7 linked regions of the Homo sapiens genome follow. The protein of the gene in region 1 interacts with the protein of each later gene in a biochemical or structural test. Each region holds a gene or a part of one and is shown in the gene's direction. Other genes may lie near its edges.

What was found.
Region 2: of the proteins of TOPBP1 (region 1) and ATM, one has a biochemical effect on the other in vitro, tested with the Homo sapiens proteins (one study listed by BioGRID).
Region 3: the proteins of TOPBP1 (region 1) and MDC1 are reported together in a solved structure, tested with the Homo sapiens proteins (3 studies listed by BioGRID, with this or other methods).
Region 4: the proteins of TOPBP1 (region 1) and ATR form a complex in vitro, tested with the Homo sapiens proteins (one study listed by BioGRID).
Region 5: the proteins of TOPBP1 (region 1) and CDC45 form a complex in vitro, tested with the Homo sapiens proteins (one study listed by BioGRID and IntAct).
Region 6: the proteins of TOPBP1 (region 1) and RHNO1 form a complex in vitro, tested with the Homo sapiens proteins (2 studies listed by BioGRID).
Region 7: the proteins of TOPBP1 (region 1) and PARP1 form a complex in vitro, tested with the Homo sapiens proteins (one study listed by BioGRID).

What each region holds. Positions count from the first base shown.
Region 1 is NC_000003.12:133,651,942-133,655,441, reverse strand, and holds part of TOPBP1 (DNA topoisomerase 2-binding protein 1), read left to right. Parts: coding exon 1-152; intron 153-1,917; coding exon 1,918-2,097; intron 2,098-2,812; coding exon 2,813-2,979; intron 2,980-3,500. UniProt on the Homo sapiens protein: Scaffold protein that acts as a key protein-protein adapter in DNA replication and DNA repair. Composed of multiple BRCT domains, which specifically recognize and bind phosphorylated proteins, bringing proteins together into functional combinations.
Region 2 is NC_000011.10:108,324,067-108,327,566, forward strand, and holds part of ATM (serine-protein kinase ATM), read left to right. Parts: intron 1-1,243; coding exon 1,244-1,478; intron 1,479-1,991; coding exon 1,992-2,159; intron 2,160-3,500.
Region 3 is NC_000006.12:30,707,282-30,710,781, reverse strand, and holds part of MDC1 (mediator of DNA damage checkpoint protein 1), read left to right. Parts: intron 1-2,424; coding exon 2,425-3,216; intron 3,217-3,327; coding exon 3,328-3,398; intron 3,399-3,500. UniProt on the Homo sapiens protein: Histone reader protein required for checkpoint-mediated cell cycle arrest in response to DNA damage within both the S phase and G2/M phases of the cell cycle.
Region 4 is NC_000003.12:142,554,734-142,558,233, reverse strand, and holds part of ATR (serine/threonine-protein kinase ATR), read left to right. Parts: intron 1-1,658; coding exon 1,659-1,851; intron 1,852-2,094; coding exon 2,095-2,357; intron 2,358-3,500. UniProt on the Homo sapiens protein: Serine/threonine protein kinase which activates checkpoint signaling upon genotoxic stresses such as ionizing radiation (IR), ultraviolet light (UV), or DNA replication stalling, thereby acting as a DNA damage sensor.
Region 5 is NC_000022.11:19,510,920-19,514,419, forward strand, and holds part of CDC45 (cell division control protein 45 homolog), read left to right. Parts: intron 1-3,500. UniProt on the Homo sapiens protein: Required for initiation of chromosomal DNA replication. Core component of CDC45-MCM-GINS (CMG) helicase, the molecular machine that unwinds template DNA during replication, and around which the replisome is built.
Region 6 is NC_000012.12:2,880,223-2,883,722, forward strand, and holds part of RHNO1 (RAD9, HUS1, RAD1-interacting nuclear orphan protein 1), read left to right. Parts: intron 1-3,500. UniProt on the Homo sapiens protein: Involved in microhomology-mediated end-joining (MMEJ) DNA repair by promoting recruitment of polymerase theta (POLQ) to DNA damage sites during mitosis.
Region 7 is NC_000001.11:226,401,594-226,405,093, reverse strand, and holds part of PARP1 (poly [ADP-ribose] polymerase 1), read left to right. Parts: intron 1-2,714; coding exon 2,715-2,880; intron 2,881-3,500. UniProt on the Homo sapiens protein: Poly-ADP-ribosyltransferase that mediates poly-ADP-ribosylation of proteins and plays a key role in DNA repair.

The sequences.
Region 1 (3,500 bases):
TCCTATTTTTCTTGGTTGCATAATCTGTGTGACTGGCTTATGTGGCTTAGACAGGAAAGAAGTTCAGCAACTCACAGTTAAGCATGGAGGTCAATACATGGGACAATTGAAAATGAATGAATGTACACACCTCATTGTGCAAGAACCAAAAGGTAAAACTGTGTTTCACAAAGGGACAAATGAAACATTTTCTCTAGTATTTAATATTTTATTTTTATTTATTTATTTATTTATTTTGAGACAGAGTCTTGCTCTATTGCCCAGGCTGGAGGGCAGTGGCACAATCTCAGCTCACTGCAACCTCTGCCTCCCTTGATCAAGCGATTCTCCCAACTCAGCTTCCCGAGTAGCGGGATTACAGGCACCTGCCACCACGCCTGAATAACTTTTTATTTTTAGTAGAGACGGGCTTTCACCATGTTGGCCAGACTGGTCTCTAACTGACCTCAATTGATCTTCCCACCTCAACCTCCCAAAGTCCTGGGATTACAGGCATGAGCCACCGTGCCCAGCCACTAATATTTAATATTTTAAAATCTTTACAGAACAGCTTTTACTTCTGACATGTCATTAATCTAGTTTGATACTGTTTTCTCTAACATCTTGCAAAGATGTTTTCTCTAACATCTTGCAAAGTTTTAACTGGAAGACACACCTTGCGGCACATGAGGCAGTAAAAAATGAAAAAGACATTACGAACAAGAAAAATTCTTTAAAATTGCTATTAAGTTTGGTGTTACATAACATTATTCTGGATAATTTTTTATCAGCACTCTTAAAATATACACAAATTGATAAAAGATGAGTTTTGTTAATGTTTTTATTATTGCCCTTTATATGTATACTGTGTTTTACTAAGCTATCTAGATTGAGAAGAAATTACGATTAAATGGTAATTGTCCTTAAGTCAGAACTTTGAGTATGGCTGATTGTGATAGGATCACTGTGAGTAGAGTTGATACTGCTGTTCTTTTTCTGAATCTGAAGACAGTTCATTGTTGATTCTCTCAAGAATGCCAAAAAACCTTTCATGTGACATATTGACCTCAATTCCTCTGTGATACTGCTTCAAAATACATTGTGTTGAAGATTTTTAAGGTAATAAAAGATACATATTTTCAATATAATTTATCTTTTGGCTTATCTATCCTGGACTTTAAGTAGAAGCCTGTTGACATTGGAATAGTCTGTTCAAAGTTGGGATTTATTATATAGCACAAATTTACAATTTTCACATTGTACAAGCTGGTTTAAAGAAATTAAGTGATGGAGCCTATATGCAAACCCAAGTCCAATATTAATTAAGTTACCCCACAGTTGCTTCTGTCTTCCTGCAGTTTGTATAAAAGATAAAACCTCTCACATGGCATATGTATTTATACTACACATAGAAAATATAATTAGGCAATAAGCTAAAATACTACTTTGTAATAAACTGTGTAGCATACTGTTTAAGAGTAAGTACTGGTAACTTTAATTTTGTTGATAGGTTTTTGAAATAACCTGTTATAGCCGGGCGCGGTTGCTCACGCTTGTAATCCCAGCATTTTGGGAGGCCAAGGCAGGCGAATCACCTGAGGTCAGGAGTTTGAGACCAGCCTAGCCAACATGGTGAAACCCCGTGTCTACTAAAAATACAAAAAAATTAGCCAGACATGGTGGCACACGTCTGTAATCCTAGCTATTCAGGAGGCTGAGGCAGGAGAATCGCTTGATCAGGAGGGAGGTGGAGGTTGCAGTGAGCCAAGATCTCACCACTGTACTCCAGCCTGGGCAACAGAGTGAGACTCCATCTCAAAAAAAAAAAAAAAATATTAACCTGTTATAATTTGAATATTTCTGCAAAGATAGATTGTAATGGTTTTCATTTCTTGGTTTCTCCTATTTTCTCTATTTCTTTCTTAATGAACGCCACAGGTCAGAAGTATGAGTGTGCCAAGAGATGGAATGTACACTGTGTGACCACACAGTGGTTTTTTGACAGTATTGAGAAAGGTTTTTGTCAGGATGAATCCATATACAAGACAGAACCTAGACCAGAAGCAAAGACTATGCCCAATTCTTCAACTCCTACCAGCCAGATCAACACAATTGATAGTGAGTCTCATTGAGATTAAAATAATTATTCTGAAGACAGTCATATTTCTATGTAATAATCAGTATGTTAATAGGATCACTGAGATAGGGAATTTCTTTTTCTTGTTTGCTGTGCTTCTAGGCATAATTGTATAATAGTCAAATTGTATAAAAAGTTAGCACTGAACTGTTCGTAATTTTCTTTTAGAATGAATGAATGCTGTCTTTTATACTCTGTTGTAATGCAAAAGATGATCAAAGAAATTAAGAACAATGGTAGCTGGGGGCTTAAGATAAAAGTATTAATCTTTTAAACATTACATGCATATATTAATCTTTCCTTAATTTACAGTTTTGCTGCAGTTATAGATCATCTGTATTTGTATAAAAATTAAAACCATTTCTATTTTGTAGGTGTCGTGTTGGCAAAATGTTTAAAATATTTTTTCAAATGTAAGCTTCTTGGACCTTAAAGTCAGCAACTTCAGATTTTTATGGGAAACAAGACACTATTAAGAAAATGTGTTAAATCTATTTTCATTTAAATAAGATAGGAGGCTTAATTAATTTCATTTTCCCTTTTTATACTTTGCCACTAAGATTTCAGTAAACACCCCTGAATCTTACTTTGGAAGTTGTTTATTGCCCTATATTTGTAAGAAAAGTTAATCCATAGACAATATGTAATCATGATTATTTTATCTCCCATAAATTTATACGTTTTCAAAATATGTAGGTCGTACTCTTTCAGATGTCAGCAATATTTCCAACATAAATGCAAGTTGCGTAAGTGAATCAATATGTAATTCACTTAACAGCAAACTGGAGCCTACACTTGAAAATCTAGAAAATCTGGATGTCAGTGCATTTCAAGCACCTGAAGATTTATTAGATGGTTGTCGGGTACGTCTTTATTATATAATACATGCAGTAGATGATATACATTAGCATTTCCTAGCCTGACTTTGAAGACCCTTCAGAGTTGGGCTTGCTCCTTACTATCTATGTAAACCCTCCACTCTAGCTAAGTAGATGCACTTACTAGACCATGTCCATCCTTTGGCTGCGAGAGTCCCTCTGCCTGCAAGGTATCTTCCTCTGTTATCTTTTAAAAGTTCATTTCAGGTTTTAACTCTTCTCTGAACCCTCCTAACTACATTAATCTTTTCATCTGCTATATTTCGAGAGCACTTAGTTTCTGAACAACTTATTGGATTTTTTTTTTTTAATTTTTTTGAGTTAGGGTCTCACTCTGTTGCCCAGGCTGGGATGCAGTGGCACAATCATAACTTCCTGTAACCTTGAACTCCTGGGCATCAGCCACCCCTCAGTCTCCCGAGCAGTTAGAACTACAGGCATGTGCCACTACACCTGGCTAATTTTTAAAATTTTTTTGTAGAGACAAGGTCTCACTATGTTGCCCA
Region 2 (3,500 bases), on another chromosome or scaffold:
TTTAAAGAATAGGGTATAACACTTATTTACATAGCATTTACATTATAGTAGGTATAATATGTAATTAGAGATTTATGTATAACCTGTGCACATTCTCCTATTACACGTAATCTAGAGGTTATGTGTAATACTTTTTGGAAATGTTTAATAAAAGCACAATCTAGAGGTTACGTGTAATAGGAAAATGCCCTGCCATTTTAAATAAGGGACTTTGAACATCAGCATTATCAAGGTGTCTTGGAACCAATTTTCTGCAGATACAGAGAAACTACTGTAGTTATTTTTCCTAAAAATTGTTATTTATGATATATAGTAGATTTATTATTTTTGAATAAATTAATACATTTTAGATTTTTCTCAGTCTTTCTAATATGATATCATATCTAATATCAGTAGATATGGTCCAACGATCGAAAGTTCTTTGGGGTCTTCAATAATTTGTTTGATTGTAAAGGAGTTCCGCAAAAAGTTTGAGACCTGCTGTGGTAGGGTCATTTAGAGAGGAATTGAAGTTTTGGTTCCTAGCATTTTTGTTACTGTTCCTTCCCTATCAAGCAACTAAAAGAGCTTTCATTTCTTAGTCATCACTTTGTCATCTTACTCTCCCTGCTTCCTCTTTCTTATTTCTTTCAATAAATGTCCCTGAAGGATTGGGTAGTATTTCATAGTTCAGTTATTTGGGAAGGATACTATTCATATAAACTAATTGTGCAATATGCCTTTTCTGTTCCTTTAATAATGTTGGTAAATGAAACCTTTGCCAGATGCCAGCTTTTCCTTCACTGGATTGTGATTTTTTTGACAGCTATAATTATGCATCAAGTCATCCCCAGTAGGGGGTCCCTCATTTCCTTGCTGACATGTCCTCATTACTACAGGCAGTATTGAAGCAGGACTAAAGATGGAGGCATTCTTTATGATAGGTCTGATGAATATGTTCTTGTTTCAGAAGAGTATTTAGAAGGGCTGCTTTTTGTAATGTCAGAGTATTAAAAATTTTTTTTGATGTTTGTCATCTGTGACCTCTCTGCTAATAACTCTTAAGAGCTCTGACCGCATAGCATTTTGTAGTTTTCTAAATTTTGATCCATATGTAGGATTATTTACAAGTTCTAGTCTTGTCACTACAAAAGTTCCTTTGTATTATTATAATATTATATCGTAAGTTCCAGAACTTACATAGTTTTTTTTTTTTTTTTTTTCATTTCTCTTGCTTACATGAACTCTATGTCGTGGCATTCAGATCAGTCACACATAGACAACTCTCTGAAGTATATATTAAGTGGCAGAAACACTCCCAGCTTCTCAAGGACAGTGATTTTAGTTTTCAGGAGCCTATCATGGCTCTACGCACAGTCATTTTGGAGATCCTGATGGAAAAGGAAATGGACAACTCACAAAGAGAATGTATTAAGGACATTCTCACCAAACACCTTGTAGAACTCTCTATACTGGCCAGAACTTTCAAGAACACTCAGGTAAATACAATTTAAAACTATGTCATCTTACCTCTTGACTTTCCTTTTATTATTTAAAAAACAGAAAGCCTGAGGGAAAAAGAAATGTCATTAAGAGATAGAGATCTCTATTAATATATAGTAAAAATAATTGTTTAAGAGTTCCCATTTTGGAATTAGATCTGACTTTTAAGCCTTGGGCAAGGGTACTTAATCTTTTCTCAACCTCAATTTCCTGGTTATAAAATGAGAAGATACGTAACTTACTATATTGATAACAATTCAGTGATTTTATATACTGTGTGTATGTACACACAGATACACATACATACATATAGAGAGAGACAGACAGACAGACAGATAGGCAGACGTGGGGTGGGGAGATGTCATGCAGACAGAGAGGTCCTTAAGATAGTCCCTGACAAGTAGTTAAGTCCTCAATGAATGGTAGTTGCTGCTTTCATTATTATTATTATTCATGGTAGTAGTATCAGTAGTAAAAGTATTTATTCCCATATGTCATTTTCATTTCAGCTCCCTGAAAGGGCAATATTTCAAATTAAACAGTACAATTCAGTTAGCTGTGGAGTCTCTGAGTGGCAGCTGGAAGAAGCACAAGTATTCTGGGCAAAAAAGGAGCAGAGTCTTGCCCTGAGTATTCTCAAGCAAATGATCAAGAAGTTGGATGCCAGCTGTGCAGCGGTTTGTTTTTTTTATTGGCTGGATTAGTGTTTTACTGTTATTTAAAAAAACACAAATGTACTTTAAAATATTTTTAATAACAATTTTATTAGAGCCTTGAAATTAGTAATTTATTAACAAGATATTGTAAAACTAGTCTTGAAAATTAATTTGTAAATGAAGTTTAGAAACTTTTTCCTATATATCACAATTCTATCAGTCCATCATGTGGTCGATTCATTTAATATATCCCAGTATTAAGCCTTTAACTTCCTATAGAATTCAAGAAAGGTATGTGGGAAATGAATGAAATAGCTACTCTAAATTTGAAATGACAAGTGAAAAAAGGGAAGAGGAAATGAATGAGAGAACTAAATTAGAAAATAAAAGCAAGTTGGGACAATTAGGTTGTCAATCCAAATGCTTTGAAAATATCACATCTAATATTTTATCTAACATTACCTGTTGGTTTTTGCAAACTTATGTTGCTACTTCAGCTGTAAACCCAGCATACACACTGGATAAAGTAGAGGCATTGGTGTCCCCAAGGTTTGTCTACAGTGGTGTCCCACAGACATGTACCTGCTTAGTGAATATCAGCTCACTGTGCTTTATTATTTATTTATTTATTTATTTTTTGAGACGGAGTCTTGCTCTGTCACCCAGGCTGGAGTGCAGTGGTACGACATCGGCTCACCGCAACCTCCACCTCCCTGGTTCAAGCAATTCCCCTGCCTCAGCCTCCCTTGTAGCTGGGATTACAGGCACATGCCACCATGCCCAGCTAATTTTTTTGTATTTTTAGTAGAGATGGGGTTTCACCATGTTGGCAAGACTGGTCTCGAACTCCTGAGCTCAGGCAATCTACCCGCCTTGTCCTCTGAAAGTGCTGGGATTACAGGCGTGAGCCACCACGCCCGGCCTTTACTGTACTTTTTGATGTTGGGCACTCATTGTATAGCATCTTCTGTTATTAGAGAAATCATTATACCAAAGCACTGAGTGCCAATATGATATGTGTAAATATTGCTTAATAGTATTGGCCCTGAAGTATGTGCTGTCTGGAGTTACCCAACTTCCTTGTACCTCAGTTTTCTAATCTGCAAATTGGGGTAATAATAGTACTTATTTAATAGGATTCTTGTGAGAATTAAATGAGTTAATATATATAAAGCCTTTACAAAGTGTCTGACATATATAAGTACTCAATAAATGTGACTTGCTCCAATAATGGCAATAATAATAATAAACAGAGGATGATCATTTCCTACATGGGATTATTAAAATAGTTGTATGGCAAAAGCAGATGAGGAAAAACTTTTTTTTTCCCACCCACCAAGGAAAAACATTTTTAACCTGCTT
Region 3 (3,500 bases), on another chromosome or scaffold:
ATTGCAGCACTGTTCACAATAGGCAGATATGAAATCAAACTAAATGTCCATCAACAGATGAATGGATAAAGAAAATGTAGGCCGGGGTCGGGCACAGTGGCTCACACCTCTAATCCCAACACTTTGGGAGGCCAAGGCAGGCAGATCACCTGAGATCGGGAGCTTGAGACCAGCCTGACCAACATGGAGAAACCCCGTCTCTACTAAAAATACAAAATTAGCCGGGTGTGGTGGTGCATGCCTGTAATCCCAGCTACTCAGGAGACTGAGTCAGGAGAATCCCTTGAACCCAGGAGGCAGAGGTTGCAGTGAGCTGAGATTGTGCCATCGCACTCTGGCCTGGGCAACAAGAGTGAAACTCTGTCTCAAAAAAACGAAAGAAAAGAAAATGTAGGCCGGGCACAGTGCCTCATGCCTGTAATCCCAGCACTTTGGGAAGCCGAAGTGGGTGGATCACATGAGGTCAGGAGTTTGAGACCAGCCTGGCCAACATGGTGAAACCCTGTCTCTACTAAAAATACAAAAATTAGCTGGGCATGGTGGCAGGTGCCTGTAGTCCCAGCTACTCGGGAGACTGAAGCAGGAGACTCATTTGAACCCCGGAGGCAGAGGTTGCAGTGAGCCAAGGTCACACCACTGCACTCCAACATGGGCAACAGAGTGAGACTTCATCTCTAATAATAAAAAAAAAGAAAATGTGTATATAGGCTGGGTGCAGTGGCTCAAAATACAAAATTTAGCTGGGCATGGTGGCATGCACCTGTAGTCTTAGCTACTCGGGAGGCTAAGATGGGAGGATTGCTGCCTAAGACGCAGAGGTTGCAGTGAGCTGAGGTCATGCCACTGCACTCCAAACTGGGTGACAGAGCAAGACTCAATCTAAAAAAAAAAGAAAATGTGTATATATACACAGTGGAACAGTATTCAGCAACAGAAGAGAATGAAATCCTGTCATCTGCAGCAACATGGATGAACCCTGAGGACATTATGTTAAGTGAAATAAGTCAGCACAGAAAGGCAAATATTGTATGCTCACTCATGTGGGAGCTAAAAACATGGATCTCATGGAAGTAGAGAGTAGAATGGTGGTTACCAAAGGCTAGGAAGGGTAGAGGGACAGAATGCATAAAGAGGTTGGTTAATGAATACAAAAATCCAGTCAGATTGAATGAATAAGTTCTAGTGTTCAGTTCCACAGTAGTGTTACTATAGTTAATAATTTATTGTGTATTTCAAAATAGCTAGAAGAGATTTGATATGTTTCCAAGACAAAGAAATGATAAATGTTTGAGATAGTGGATATCCCAATTATCTTGGTTTTATCATTGTACATTGTATGCATGAGTCAAAATAGCACAGGTACCCCATAAATATGTACAATTATTATGTGTCAATGAAGAAAAAAGAAAATGTGGTATATATACACAGTGGAATACTATTCAGCCTTTAAAAAGAAGGAAATTCCAGCCAAGCATGGTGGCTCACACCTGTAATCCCAGCACTTTGGGAGACCAATGTGGGTGGATCACTTGAGTCTAAGAGTTCAAGACCAAACCCCATCTCTACAACAAATACAAAAAATTAGCCGGGCACTTTGGCACATGCCGTAGTCCCAGCTACTTGGGAGGCTGAGGTGGGAGGATCTCCTGAGCCCAGCAGTTGGGAGTTGCAGTGAGCCAACATCATGCCACTGCACTCCAGCCTGGGTGACAGAGTGAAACTGTCTTGAGAGAGAGAGACTATTCAGGGAACTCTCTTATTAGGCTATGATGTTTTTCTTTCTTTCTTTCTTTCTTTCTTTTTTTGAGACAGGGTCTCTGTCACTCAGGCTGGAATGCAGTGGTATGATGAGAGACTATTCAGGGAACTCATATTAGGCTATGATGTTTTTCTTTTTCTCTTGGGTTTTTTTTTTTTTTTTTTTTTGAGACAGAGTCTCTGTCACTCAGGCTGAAGTGCAGTGGTATGATCACAGCTCACTACAGTCTTGACCTTTGGGGTTCAAGTAGTTCTCCTACCTCAGCCTCCCGGGTAGCTGAGACTACAGGACTACAGGTCCCCGTCCCCACACCTAATTTTTTTGTATTTTTTGTAGAGATGGGGTTTTGCCATGTTGTCCAGGCTAGTCTCAAACTCCTGGCCTCAAGCAATCCTCATGTCTTGGCCTCCCAAAGTCCTGGGATTACATGTCTGAGCCACCATGCCCGCCTAAGGCTATGACCTTTTTGAGACAAACGTTAAATGTTATAACTACCACCCTTATTCCCAGCTTACCTTTAATAACCTGTTCAGATTTATTATTCATGAGTTTATCTAAATCCTTTCTCATCATATTTATTATGTCAACCTGTACTTCCCTTTCCCTCTTCCTCTCCCTCTTTTCTCTCCCTCTCCCTCTCTCTCTCTTCCTTCCTCCCCTTCCAGGTACCCTAGATGAACCATGGGAGGTCCTGGCTACACAGCCATTCTGTCTGAGAGAGTCTGAGGACTCTGAGACCCAGCCTTTTGACACGCACCTTGAGGCCTATGGACCTTGCCTGTCTCCACCTAGGGCAATACCAGGAGACCAACATCCAGAGAGCCCAGTTCACACAGAGCCAATGGGGATTCAAGGCAGAGGGAGGCAGACTGTGGATAAAGTCATGGGTATACCAAAAGAAACAGCAGAGAGGGTGGGCCCTGAGAGAGGGCCATTGGAGAGAGAAACTGAGAAACTGCTACCAGAAAGACAGACAGATGTGACAGGAGAGGAAGAATTAACCAAGGGGAAACAGGACAGAGAACAAAAACAGTTGTTAGCTAGAGACACCCAGAGACAAGAATCTGACAAAAATGGGGAAAGTGCAAGTCCTGAAAGAGATAGGGAGAGTTTGAAGGTAGAAATTGAGACATCTGAGGAAATACAAGAGAAACAAGTACAGAAGCAGACCCTTCCAAGCAAAGCATTTGAGAGAGAAGTAGAGAGACCAGTAGCAAACAGAGAGTGCGATCCAGCCGAGTTAGAAGAGAAGGTGCCCAAAGTGATCCTGGAGAGAGATACACAGAGAGGGGAGCCAGAGGGAGGGAGCCAGGACCAGAAAGGGCAGGCCTCCAGCCCAACACCAGAGCCTGGGGTGGGGGCGGGGGACCTTCCGGGACCTACCTCAGCCCCCGTACCTTCTGGGAGCCAGTCAGGTGGAAGGGGATCCCCAGTGAGCCCCAGGAGGCATCAGAAAGGTAAGTGAAGGCAGAGGGGAACCCAAGGTGATACACAGGCCTCGTGATAATCAACCCCTGGGCAACCAGCTGCTTGGAACTCAGCCACCTTTGTGTTTACTTTCTGTCTAGGCCTCCTGAATTGCAAGATGCCACCTGCTGAGAAGGCTTCCAGGATCAGAGCTGCTGAGAAGGTTTCCAGGGTGAGAGCTACTTTTTCTACCTCCTATTCCACAAGTCATCTCTATATCTTCTCCAATGCTCTTTCACCTAGCCTCACTTTAATCTATTCCTTTCTCATTATT
Region 4 (3,500 bases), 8.9 Mb from region 1:
GTTTGTTTTAACTCATCTCTATATAGGACTTCTAAGACTTATTTATATTTTTTTCAATAATTAAAAGAGCAGGTACATTTTTAATAGTTCAGAAGGGGGTTAGATACATAAAAAGTAACACATAAAAGCCTGCCCCACATATCCCATTTCCTTTCTTTTTGTAAAACATTTGCAATGTGTCCTTACATATCATTATCTTCATTTAATAAAATTAGGAAGTATTTGAGAAATATTTTAAAAAGAAGAACAATATACCAAAAATTCTTATACCAACTTCTCAGTTTAAGAAATAGAAACATTAGGCCAGGCACGGTGGCTCACGCCTGTAATCCCAGCACTTTGGGAGGCCAAGGCATGCGGATCTCTTGAGGTCAGGAGCTTGAGACCAGCCTGGCCAACATGGCAAAACCTCATCTCTTCTAAAAATACAAAAATTAGCCAGGCATGGTGGCTCACGCCTGTAGTCCCAGCTACTAGGGAGGCTGAGATACAAGAATCTCTTGAACCCAGGAGGCAGAGGTTTCAGTGAGCCAAGATTGCACCCCTGCACTCCAGCCTGGGCTATTAGAGATATGATGGAAGCCTTTGTCCCTCTATGATTTCATTCCCCTCATTTTTTTCCCCAGAGATTACTACTGTTCTGAATTTGGTGTTGATTGTTCTGTTGAATGTTCTATTACTTTTACTATATATGTATTTATTTATAAATAATATAAGAAATTGTTTTGCTTCTTACAGCTTACATTTTGTTGATCAACACTATCTTTATGAGACTTATCCATGGTGATATGGGTAACTCTAGTTTTTATTTAAACTTCCAAATAGTAGCCAAATTTGGATGGACACTATCAGACCTCCTATTGGTGGACAATCAAGTTGTTTCCAACTTTTCACAATTACAAGCAACATTTAAATGAATATTTTTATAAATGATTCTTTAGTCATTCTAAGTCCTTGCTGTTTGAAAAGTATGCTCCACAGACCAGTAGCATCGCCACCATTTAGGGACTTGTTAGAAATGGAGCGTCTTTGATTCTGCTGAAAGAGCACATTAAAAAAAAAGAGAGAGAAAGAAAGAAATGGGGAATCTTATGCTCCACCCAGACCTACTGATCAGAATCTGCATTTTAACAAGATAGGTGATTCATATCCATATTAAAGTTTGAGAAGCATTATTTTAACGTTTTTACCTACCTAGGAGTAGTATTGTTGGGTTATAGAGTTTGCACATCTTCACCTCTATTCTGCTGTATTGTTCTCCAAAGATACACCAGTTTACACTCCTGTTAGCAGAGTATGAGTTCCACATCCTCACTGACACTTAGCTGACTTTAAAATTTTTGCTATCTAGAAAATAAAAAATGTCATGGAGTTAAGTATCTTAAATTTTTTCTTTTTCCTATCTGGTAGGTATGATTTTCAATTTGCATTTCCTTGATTATTTAGTAAGGTTGTGTATAGACCTTTTTCAGTGCACTTGCTTTATTTTCTGAAAAGGAGCTTTTAATTAAATTAGGTATTAAATGTATTTTAAGTGTTACTTGACTTTTATTTATATATATGTATACACAAATGTTACTTTACTTATATATATGTATATGTGTATACATAAAATTAACATTAGTAGAAATCTTGTTTAATAGACTTAATTTTTTCAGCACCACAGGCACAATCACGATGTGTGTTTCTTCTGACTCTGTTTCCAAGAAGAATATTCCTTGAGTGGAGAACAGCAGTTTACAACTGGGCCCTGCAGAGCTCCCATGAAGTAATCCGGGCTAGTTGTGTTAGTGGATTTTTTATCTTATTGCAGCAGCAGAATTCTTGTAACAGAGTTCCCAAGATTCTTATGTATGTACTAAGATTTTAATTTGAATATATCACTCTATTGGAAAGATCATAATTGTCTGGCTATGTATGCAGGGTTGTGTTTATTGTTGAATATGTAAAGCAAATGTTGCTTTTAGTTTTAGAATTTAACATTTTTTCCTTCTAGGCTTTGTTTTACCAGTACTTTTGTCCCAAATTAAGCAAGACTATTTAGACCACAAAATTAGGCAAGAAAGTTTAGTACTTTTTCTTTTTTTTCCCCAGAGATAAAGTCAAAGATGATTCTGACATTGTCAAGAAAGAATTTGCTTCTATACTTGGTCAACTTGTCTGTACTCTTCACGGCATGTTTTATCTGACAAGTTCTTTAACAGAACCTTTCTCTGAACACGGACATGTGGACCTCTTCTGTAGGAACTTGAAAGCCACTTCTCAACATGAATGTTCATCTTCTCAACTAAAAGCTTCTGTCTGCAAGCCATTCCTTTTCCTACTGAAAAAAAAAATACCTAGTCCAGTAAAACTTGGTGAGTGATTATGACTTATTTAATACTTTAAAACCTATTTAAGCTCTGCTTTTCAAATCAGTAAAAGAATTAGACTGAAGCCTTGAAAAATTACAGGAAGTTACATGCTTTATAGATTCAGTGCTCAGTATTGATTAGTTATAAATGGGATAACTGGTATTAGATCGCATCACAAAACTGGTAGGAGAGGTGATTTTGGGATTTTTCGAATACTCTTGTGATTTGACAGCCTAAATGGGGCATACCTGATGGTTGTTTCAATATTGTAAGATTCAATATTAGATTATCTTCTTTAGTGATACCAGAGATCGTCTTAATGTGCCCCCTGTTACAACCTTGGACCTTGAGAACTTCAAATAGTTAAATTACTTTGCCCAACTGAGGACTATAGAGTGTATCTTCTTGGCCACTTTCCAGTGGTAATGGAGTATAAATTTTTATGAAGTATGAGATTTATACAAATACTTAGAAGATCCATTTGTTTAGGTAGTAAGTTGAAACTTGTTCTGAAGTTTCAATAGAAACTTTCTATTGAAAGCAATAGAAAGTACTCCCTAAATCTTGTAATGTAAGGTTAACAATAAAGCTAAGATCCCCTTGAGAAATGTGCTTTTCTTTTTTTCTTTTTTTTTTTTTCCCCGAGACGGAGTTTTGCTCTTGTTGCCCAGGCTGAAGTACAATGGCGCCATCTTGGCTCACTGCAACCTCTGCCTCCTGGGTTCAGACGATTCTCCTGCCCCAGCCTCCGGAGTAGCTGGGATTACAGGCGTGTGCCACCAGGCCTGGCAAATTTTTGCATTTTTAGTAGAGACAGGGTTTCACCATGTTGGTCAGGCTAGTCTCCAACTCCTGACCTCAGGTAATCTACCCACTCTGTCCCCCCAAAGTGCTGGGGTTACAGGCATGAGCCACCATGCCCGGCCTTTCTTCTTTCTTTTTTTTTTTTTAAGAGACAGGGTCTTGCTCTGTCACCCAGGCTAGAGTGCAGTGGCGCAATCATGGCTCACTGCAGTCTGCATCCTTGATCTCCCAGGCTCAAGTGATCCTCCCACCTCAGCCTCTTGAGTAGCTGGAACCATAGTATGTGCCACTACACCCAGCTAATTTTTAAATTTTTTGTAGAGAGGGATCTCACTTTGTTGC
Region 5 (3,500 bases), on another chromosome or scaffold:
CCTATTGACAATTATGACTAATGCTGCTGTGAACTTGCATGTACAAGTTTTTGTGTAGTCATGTCTTTGTTTCTTTTGGTTATATACCTACATGTGGAAATGCTGGGTGACATGGTAACACTAGGTTTCAAGGAACTGCCAGATTTTTGAGGAACTGCCAGACTTTTCCACAGCAGCTGCACCATTTTACATTCCCACCAGGAGGGAGGGTTTCAATTTCTTCACATCCTCACCGACACTTGTTATTGTCCATCTTTTGGATTACATTCATCCTAGTGAGTATGAAGTGGTATCTCGTTATGGTTTTGATTTGCATTTTACTGATGACTAATAGTGTTGAGCATCTTCTCATGTGCTTATTGGTCATTTGTGTATCTTGTTAGGAGAATTGTCTATTCAAGTCCTTTGTCTTTTTTTTTTTTTTTTTTTGAGACAGGGTGTCACTCTGTTGCTCAAGCTGGAGTGCAGTGGTGCAGTCATGGCTCACTGCAGCCTCAAACTCCTTGGCTCAAGCCATCCTCCCACCTCAGCCTCCTGAATAGGTGGGATTACAGGCATGAGCTACCACACCTGCTAATTTTTAAATTTTTAGTAGAGATGAGATCTTACCATGTTGCTCAGGCTGGTCTCAAACTCCTGGGCTCAAGCAGTCTTCCAGCCTTGGCCTCCCAAAGCACTGGGATTATAGGTATGAACCACCGTGCCCAGCCTAAAACTTTTATATATTCTACATACAAATCCCTTATCAGATAAGTAATTTGCAAGTATTTTCTCCCATTCTGTAGGCTGACTTTTCACTTTGGCAGTGTCCTGTGAAGTATAAGATTTGTTAATTTTGATGACATTTAAGTTACCTACTTTTTCTTTTGTTTCTTGTGCTTTTGGTGTCATATCTAAGAAACCATTGCCTAACCCAAGGTCATGAAGATTTCACATTATTTTTTCTACTAACACTTTAATAGTTTTAGCCCTTACATTAGGAGTATGATTCACTGGAGGTTTTTTTTTTTTTTTTTTTTGAGACAGGGTCTTACTCTGTCACTTAAGCTGGCATGCAGTGGCATGATTTCCACTCACTGCAACCTCTGCCTCCCAGGTAGCTGGGACTACAGGCATGTGCCACTGCACCTGGCTAATTTTTGTATTTTTTGTAGAGACATGTTGGTCAGGCTGGGCCCCTTACTCTTTACTATAGTCTCCTTACACTTCAGCAAGGCCCCTTGCTCTTTACCATGCCCCCTTATACTTTACCAGGCTCCCTTGCTGTTTAACAGGACCCCTTGCTCATTACCAGGACTCCTTGCACTCCAGGGAGGCTCCTTAAACTTTCCCTTGGCCCACTGCACTCACCTGCTCTTGCATAGGGCAAAACTCTCAGTTTGGGCCGCTGCTCTCCAGTTGCCTGGAGTTTTAAGTCTTCTTAGGTCTCACTACCTCTTGGCTTTCTCTCGCACTGATGTAGATAGTATACCTGTCTGGCTGTTCATGGTCTCTTTTTACCTGCTTACACTTTGGGGTTTGAAGTGTTCCCTTGTTCTCTTAATTTGTTGCAAATGTGGGTCCTAGGTTTTTGGTTTTGCAATCTAGTTGCTCTACTTTTATCTAGAAATTTGGGAAAATCCAAAAACTATTTTACCACTGTTGCTGCCATCATCCCAGCATTGATGGGTAGGCTTTAGACATTGTCTACCAACTTCCTGCTATGACAAAGGAGCATTTATCCCACTCTTGTCCACCTTCCCTCCTGTTGGTACAGTTTTGCCACTATTTTTAACTTCTTTGTAACTTTAACATATTTATGTCTTCTTTCATCACTAGTATCTCGTCTCCCTACTTTGTAAGAAAAGGATATTTAAAACACTCTTAGTCCATTTTGTGTTGCTATAAAGGAATACCTGAGGCTGAGTAATTTATAAAGAGAAAAGGTTTATTTGCCTCATAATTCTGATGGCTGGAATGCTCAAGATTGGGCATCTGCATCTGGTGAGGGCCTCAGGCTGCTTCCACTCATGGCAGAAGGGGAGCTGGTGGGTGCAGAGACCATGTGGCAATGGAGGAAGGAAGAGAGAGGAGGAAGGTACTAGGCTCTTTTTAACAACCGTCACGGGAACTAATAGAGTAAGAACTCACTTACACCCCCTAGCCCCAGGGAGAGCATTCATCTATTCATGAGGGGTCTGCACCCATGACCCAACACTTCCCACTAGACCCCACCTCGAAGATCTTGGATCAGATTTCAACATGAGGTTTTGAGGGGACAAATGTCCAAGGTGTAGAAACAGCCTTACTTTGCTCTTCAGTGCTGCTCAGTACTTTCTGAAATTTGTGCTTTTACGTTTTCAAGACTGATAACAATCTTGGGTTAGAGAAAAAGATATAAATTGTCTTATCTTTGGTTACAGGTTGATTTTAAAAGTTGAAAGTAAACAAATAGTTTTACTTTATTGTGCTAATAAACTATTCCAGAGACAATCATGTGTAGTAATAGATTACTATCTGGCACGGCTCTTTGTTTTTCCTGCTGTTTTTAATTGCCTCCTTTATCACATCCATTTTTTTCTCCTCCAAACTCCTTCCAGCTGTTTTTCTGTGAGCCCCTTTTTGCTGGAGAGTCTGGGGTTCTGTCTTCCCACCACAGCCTGGACCTACAGCTCTCTAGACCTGCTTTCCACTGTCCCCATGGATGTCCAAATCTTGGCTGTGCCTCTTAGTTTAGTCCAATGTTTCTTGGGATCTTCATCTTTGTTTCATTTACTCCCTCATTAAATTAGAGCACAGTTCTTAAGTAACATTCAAAGAAAGGGCGCATGTGAGATAAACTTTCTGAGTTCTTATATATCTGACAATATCTTTATTTTACTATTTCTTTACTATTCCCCCCACAGAAAACATCCGTGTTTTTTATTCTTGCTTTTCAGGCTTCCTGGAATGACGATGCTCTGTCTTATTTTTTTGCCTTACATTTTCCATAGCTTTGTCTTGTTATCTATGTTGAGGAAGTTTTTCTTGACTCCAGACTTGGAGTGGATGTTTTATCTTTTGCAACTGTTTTAATTTCCATCAACATTTCCTAGTTTTTAACTCTTCCTTTTTCATAGCATCCTGTTCTTGGTTTAGGAATGTAAGAGTTGCACACATCTCTCTGAAGATACTAATTAGAGTTCAGTTTAACTTTCTTTAGTTCTCCAAATTATCTGTTTCTTCAGGGTTATTTTTTTAGGCCATAGGCATTTCTCAAATGGTCTGATGTCTTTCATATTCAAGAACGGGATTGTGGACCCTTGGCTGGGCCATGGGTATCTGGGCACAGCTCACTGGTCATAAGACATCGTTTCACCTTAGCAGGCAGGAGCCAACTGTGACACTTTGGGACTCCCCACTGTAGGGCCCAGAGGCTTTGCTTGAGGATTCTACTTATTCACAGATGGTACATTTCATATACTCAGAGGGGAGCCTCCCTTTTTGTGGGGAAGAGTAAAAATCTATCTGTTGGGTTTGAG
Region 6 (3,500 bases), on another chromosome or scaffold:
CAAGAGTTTGAGGCTGCAGTGAGCTATGATCGTGTCACTGTACTCCAGCCTGGGCAACAGAACAGGACCCCATCTCTAAAAATAATTTTAAAAATTAAAATAAAAATGTTCAGGCTGGGCGTGGTGGCTCACGCCTGTAATCCCAGCACTTTGGGAGGCCGAGGTGGGCAGATCACCTGAGGTCAGGAGTTCAAGACCAGTCTGGCCAACGTGGTGAAACCCCATCTCTACTAAAAAATACTATAATTAGCTGGGCGTGGTGAGGGCGCCTGTAATCCCAGCTACTTGGGAGAGTGAGGCAGGAGAATCGCTTGGACCTAGGAGGAGGTTGCAGTGAGCCGAGATCACGCTACTGCACTCCAGCCTGGGCAACAGAGTGAGACTTTGTCTCAAAACAAACAAACAAAATTTCCACTTTATTTATTTATTTTGAGATAGGGTCTGTCTGTCACCTAGGCTAGAGTGCAGTGGCACGATCATAGCTCACCATATCTTCAAATTCCCAGGCTCAAGTGATCCTCCCACCTCAGCCTCCCAAGTAGCTGGGACTACAGGTACATGCCAACATGCCAAGCTAATTATTCTTTTAAATTTGTAGTAGAGACGAGGTCTCTCTATGTTGCCCAGGCTGGTCTTGAACTCCTGGCCTCAAGCAGTCCTCCCATCTCAGCCTCCTAAAGTTCTGGGATTACAGGCGTGAGCTACTGCACCTAGCTTGGAGAAGTTTTAAGATAATCTTTGTGGAGAATGAGTTGATCAAGGAAACAGGATTGCTGAGCAACGTACCCATTTGAAGCTGATGACTTTCAGCAAGTCATGAATTTCAAAACTATAGCCATTGCTACCACTGTTATCTTTTCACTGGATTTCTGTGGTAGCTTTTTGTTTGTTTGTTTTCTAGACTGAATCTCGCTCTGTTGCCCAGGCTGGAGTGCAGTGGCGTGATCTCGGCTCACTGCAACCTCCGCCTCCCGGGTTCAAGCGATTCTCCTGTCTCAGCCTCCTGAGTAGCAGGGATTATAGGTGTGTGCCATGACGCCTGGCTAATTTTTGTATTTTTAGTAGAGATGGGGTTTCACCATGTTGGGCAGGCTGGTCTTGAACTCCTGACTTCAAGTAATCTGCCCGCCTCAGCTCCCTAAACTGCTGGTATTAAGGGCATGAGCCACTGCGCCCGGCCTCTCTATACTTTTTATTCCTTTCCGACTAGAATGTAAGCACCACAAGGGCAGAGGTTTTATGTTATTCTCTGGTATATATTTTCAGCACCTGGAACAGTGCCTAGCACACAGTAGGCACTCAGTAAATATTTCTCAAGTGAATGAATGAGTGAATGAACAAATGGATATATATATTTTTTGTGTTTTCTATAAGATGTTAGTTCCTTAAGAATAGAAACTTTGGCTGGACATGGTGGCTCACGCCTGTAATCCCAGCACTTTGGGAGGCCGAGGCGGGTGGATCACGAGGTCAGGAGTTCGAGACCAGCCTGGTCAACATAGCGAAACCCCGTCTCTACTAAAAATACAAAAATTAGCTAGGCATGGTGGCGTGCGCCTGTAGTCCCAGCAACTCATGAAGCTGAGGCAGGAGAATCGCTTGAACCCAGGAGGTAGAGGTTGTGGTGAGCCAAGATCGCGCCACTGTACTCTAGCCTGCGTAACAGAGCAAGACTCCATCAAAAAAAAAAAAAAGAAAGAAAAAAAGAGAAACTGTGTCCTTTTTTTTCTTAACCTGTATCTCTACTGCCTAGTCATATAAGTCAAAGCATATTATTTTTTGTTGTTGATTGAATGGATCACAAATGCATAGAACCAACCTGCTCTGTTGTGTCTTTCCAGCATGCTCAGCTGCAACTCTCATTTACCTCTCTACCTATTGCATTCAACCTTGTGTCCCACCATTCCACCAAAGAAGCCCTTATTAAAGTTGATCTGGGCCAGGCGTGGTGGCTCATGCCTGTAATCCCAACACTTTGGGTGGGCGAGGCAGAAGGATTGCTTGAGCCTAGGAGTTCCAGACTAGTCTGGGCAACAAAGCAAGACCCTGTCTCTACAATAAATAAATAAATAAATAAATAAATAAATAAATAAAACTTTAAAAAAAGATGCTCTAGGCACCTTGTGAGAAAAGTCGGGTTGGAGATGGGGGTGGAAAAAGGAAGCAGGGAACTCAGTTAGAAGGCTACCAGAGGGGCCAGGCATGGTGGCTCACGCTTGTAACCCCAGCACTTTGGGAGGCCGAGGCAGGCAGATCAGTTGAGGTCTCAACTGAGTTCAAGACCAGCCTGGCCAAAATGGTGAAACCTCATCTCTACTTAAAATATAAAAATTAGCCAAGCATTGTGGCAGGTGACTGTAATCTAACCTACTGGGGAGGCTGAGGGTGGAGAATTTCTTGAACTCGGGAGGTGGCGGTTGCAGTGAGCCAAGATCAAGCCACTGCACTCCAGCCTGGACGAAAGAGTGAGACTCCGTCTCAAAAGATAAAAGTATAGAGAAAAATCAAACAGGTCAAGGGGTTGAGTTGACTGTTATTTTAGACATAGTTATTAGGGAAGGCCTATCTAAAGAACTGCTAGTAATCCCAGTATTTTGGAAGGCTAAGGAGGGAAGGATTGGTTGAGCCCAGGAATTTGAGACCAGCCTAGGCAACACAGTGAGACCTCATCTCTATAAAAAATGTTTCAAAAAAAGTTAACCAGGTGCAGTGTGCTTGCTTGTAGTTCCAGCTACTCAGGAAGCTGATGTGGGAGGATTGCTTGGGCTTTAGAGGTTGAGGCTGCAATGATCCATGATCACACCACTGCACTCCAGCCTAGGTGACAGAGCAAGGCCCTGTCTCAAAAAAAAAAAAAAAAAAACACATAGAAAACCTGGGGTGTGGTGGCTCACACCTGTAATTCCAGCACTTTGGGAGGCTGAGGTGCGCAGATAGCTTGAGCTCAGGAATTCAAGACTAGCCTGGGCAATACAACGAAACCCTATTTCTACAAAAATACGAAAATTAGCCAGCGCTGTGGCACGAGCTGTAGTCCCAGCTACTTGGGAGGCTGAGGTGGGAGGATCACCTGAGCCTGGGAGGTCAAGGCTGTGGTGAGCCATGATCATGCTACTGTACTCTAGCCTAGGCAACAGATGAGACCCTATCTCGAAAAAAAGAAAAAAAAGAAAATGGGAACACTGGCTGGCTGGATATTTGTTAATGTTAAAGAATTTATATATTTGTTTAGTCATATTAATGGGAAGGATAGAATATATATATATATATATATATATATATATATATATTTTTTTTTTTTTTTTTTTTTTTGAGACGGAGTTTCACTCTTGTTGCCCAGGCTGGAGTGCAATGGCGTGATCTCTGCTCACCGCAACCTCCGCCTCCCGGGTTCAAGCGATTCTCCTGCCTCAGCCTCCGAGTAGCTGGGATTACAGGCATGTGCCACCACGCCCAGCTAATTTTGTATTTTTCGTAGGGACAGGGTTTCTCCACGTTGG
Region 7 (3,500 bases), on another chromosome or scaffold:
TCTTTTACATTTACATGGGAGTATTGTTCTCTGAGTATCTGATACCTGACACTTTAGCCCTCATGCCTGGGGCATCTTGGGAGGGATGAGCTGGGCCCTCCAGCATTTTGGTGGGAGGAGGATGGCGGTAGACCTTTGAGTTGCTCTGTCCTGGGAGGGTTTGAGCACCCGGAGGCATGCAGTGAGGTCAGTTCATTCTCTCTGTGGCCTAGGTGGACAGGTAGCATGGCCTGTTCTGCACAGAAGGGAACCCAGTTCACCAGCTGCTGGTTGGGTGAGGACCCTGGTATGTTAGGTGCTCAGTTTTTGCTTGGGTGCACAGCCAAAGATTCTGTGCCTTGCCTCAGCTGTGCAGCTAACAAATGGAGTCGATAGTCTTGTGACCTTGGTTTGGTGCCTTTCTGCCACATCATTCTCAGTCCTGAGTTTAGGGCAAAGCATTGCTTTGGTCAGGGGTGCTTCTGCTGAGGCTCTTGTCCTCTAAGCTTGTGCTGTGATTGCACCATTGGGCAGCACCTCCAGGGTGTCCAGCACTGTGCCGGTGGTTGGGGGAGACAGCACCCAGACCAAAGGGCAGCAGGTCTGGGGCCCCTGGCAGAGCCAGGAAGAAGTGCCATAGCCATTACCTGTGCTCTTTATACAAGGGTAACTGGAACATTGCACAGGAAGGGTAGACAAGGGGTAGACAAGCAGGCAGAGCCAGGTCGAGGCCATTGCAAATATTCCATGATAGCCAGATGCTTAGGGATCTGTATCAGCAGCCTAATTGAGATCTGGTGGAACGTTTGAGAGTTGGAACATGAGTATGCTCTCAGAAATGCCATTTGTTGTCTCTTCTACAGCAGGAATTTCCCCATCCTTCCTTTTTTGTTCCATCTGACTTGGAGCCCTAAGCAAACACTGCGTGCCCTCTGTGACATGTTGCTAGAGAATAGCAAGATAGGCCCTTATGAAATAATCACCAAATGCATAGTTCTTAGTGAGGGGAGCTGTGGAAGGAGCATTGGGAGATCTGAGGGAGTGCTCTGAACAGGGCTGGAGAGCATTCCAGACCCAGGGGAAAGCTGATGTTGAGGAGTCCTTGTGCTGCCATAGTCTTAGCTGTGCATTTTAATACATCACATCCAGAAAGAGGCCACTCACAGTGGAGAGAGATAGTGGGGTACCTTATCATTGCTTTTCCAGAGTATTTTCCCTGTCCCCGCAACTCCATCCTAAAAATTCAGCACATTTACTTTTAATGCTGTTTTAATAGTCTTATTGCATCTGTGTGACATTTAGCTTTATGTTCTATAAAAGCAGATGTTTGGGACTTCCCTTACTTTAGTCAGATCACAGTTGGTGTATTTTTAAGTAGCTCTTCCTGCCGGGCAGTGGAGTGTGGTGGGAGGAATCATAGTGTCAAATCATTCATTTGCTGCCTCTGTGACTCCCAACCCCCCAGGCAAGGATTTCCAGCCCCACTGTCTCCATCTGTGAATGAAAGGGCTGGTTCCCACCCAGAGGCAGATTGTGGGATTACACAGGATGGCTTATGAAAGGAGCAGGGACACACACTACATACTGTGTCTTCCCCTTCTTCCCAATCGCTGTCACCGTCCACTCTGTAAAGCCAGGACTGGGTGCAGTGGTTCATGCCTGTAATCCCAGCACTTCGGGAAGCCGAGGCGGGCGGGTCACGAGGTCAGAAGTTCGAGACCAGCCTGGCCAACATGGTGAAGCCCCATTGCTACTAACAATACAAAAATTAGCCAGGCATGGGTGGCACGTGCCTGTAGTCCCAGCTACTCAGGAGGCCGAGGCAGGAGAATCGCTTGAACCCAGGAGACAGAGGTTGCAGTGAGCTGAGATCGCACCACTGCACTCAGTGCAAGACTCGGTCTCAAAAACAAAGCCAGACAGTGCTCGAGGCCTGGGAGCAGAACCTGACCCTGTCACAATGAAAGGCCTAGTGGGAAGCAAACCACCTGGAGAGGGGAACTGTGTTCCCTGTGGCCAGACTTCTCAGGTCCTACGCCTGGGAAACTGCGCCCCAGAAGGCCAGTGAGCAGCTGACTCCAGCTCTAGGCATGCTGCCCCGAACCATCCGCTGTCACAGTTGCCTCAAAGACCTCCATTCATTCCACTCCCATCTGTGTGGCTGCTGCAAGCTTGACACTTTTTTCTGACACACTTTCTCTGCTTTGCTCATTATCTGGGACTTGTTCCTTGTTATTCTTAACTGCAGAGGCACTTAAAGAGCCCTTTTCTGGGGCACACAGGCCCTTTGAGTCCAGGCAAGCCTGGAGCAGTTGTCTGGCCATTCCCAGCAGATGCTGCAGGATTGTGACTCTGCACAAGTGTCTTCTGTGCATTTCACTAGGCCATGAGGCAGCTCACCACTAAATGTAGCAGTGTGTGGTCAAAAGGGACGTGGGGCAGAGCTCAGTGGTAAAAGGCCACCTTTCTCGTGGCTGTGTTTGGTGTCCTAAGAGAATGAGCTCAAGAACAGTGGGCTACAGTCTTCTGACCCTTGGGGAAGATCGTGAGAAGGATGCTGCAGCTCTTCATGTGAGAGCGGAGGCTGTCCTCCTTTCACAGATAGGAGAACAAAAGTTTCATGTGCTATCCCACTGCTGGGGCTGGGACTGGGGTCGAGGTCAAGGTCAAGGTCTAGTGGGTCTAAGTCAAAAGTTAACTGCTTACTTACTTCCCTCTGTTTCTCTTCCTTCTAGTCGCCCATGTTTGATGGAAAAGTCCCACACTGGTACCACTTCTCCTGCTTCTGGAAGGTGGGCCACTCCATCCGGCACCCTGACGTTGAGGTGGATGGGTTCTCTGAGCTTCGGTGGGATGACCAGCAGAAAGTCAAGAAGACAGCGGAAGCTGGAGGAGTGACAGGTGTGTACATACTGGGGCAGCATGGGCATTCAGCCCCCACCCTGAAGCTCCCAGGAGGGCCTCGTCTCAGAGAGCAAAGCAAACCTCCCCCAGCTTGCCCTCTCCCACATGTGCAGATCAAGCGTATGGTGCCCATGTTATTTCAGCAACACCTCCTGGACTCAGCATCATCTGTTGCATGATATTTGGTATTTTGTTTTTCCAGGTGCTTGGAATGTAGCCTTTAAAGTTGTTTTGTTTTTAATATACTTTATTTTTGTTCATGGCAAAAGTAAGCAAAGAACAAAGAGTTTCCAGTACCCCCTCCCCCTCCCACCACACAGGCTCTTCCTTGTCAACACCTCCCACCAGAGTAGTACATTTGTTATAATTGAGGAACCTACACTGACACATCATTATTGCCCAGAGTCCAGAAACTCCTGATGCTCTACATTCTATGGGTTTGGACAAATGTATGATGACATGCATCTGCCATTATAGTATCATACAGAGTAGTTTCAGACCTGCACCCTTCTGCAGCCCCCTTAAGATTAAGGAAGAATAGCTCATCTCTGAGAGGGGAATGAGGTAGGAGGTGGGGCTCAGACACCAAACCAAACCGAGGACTAACTAAAGCAGGG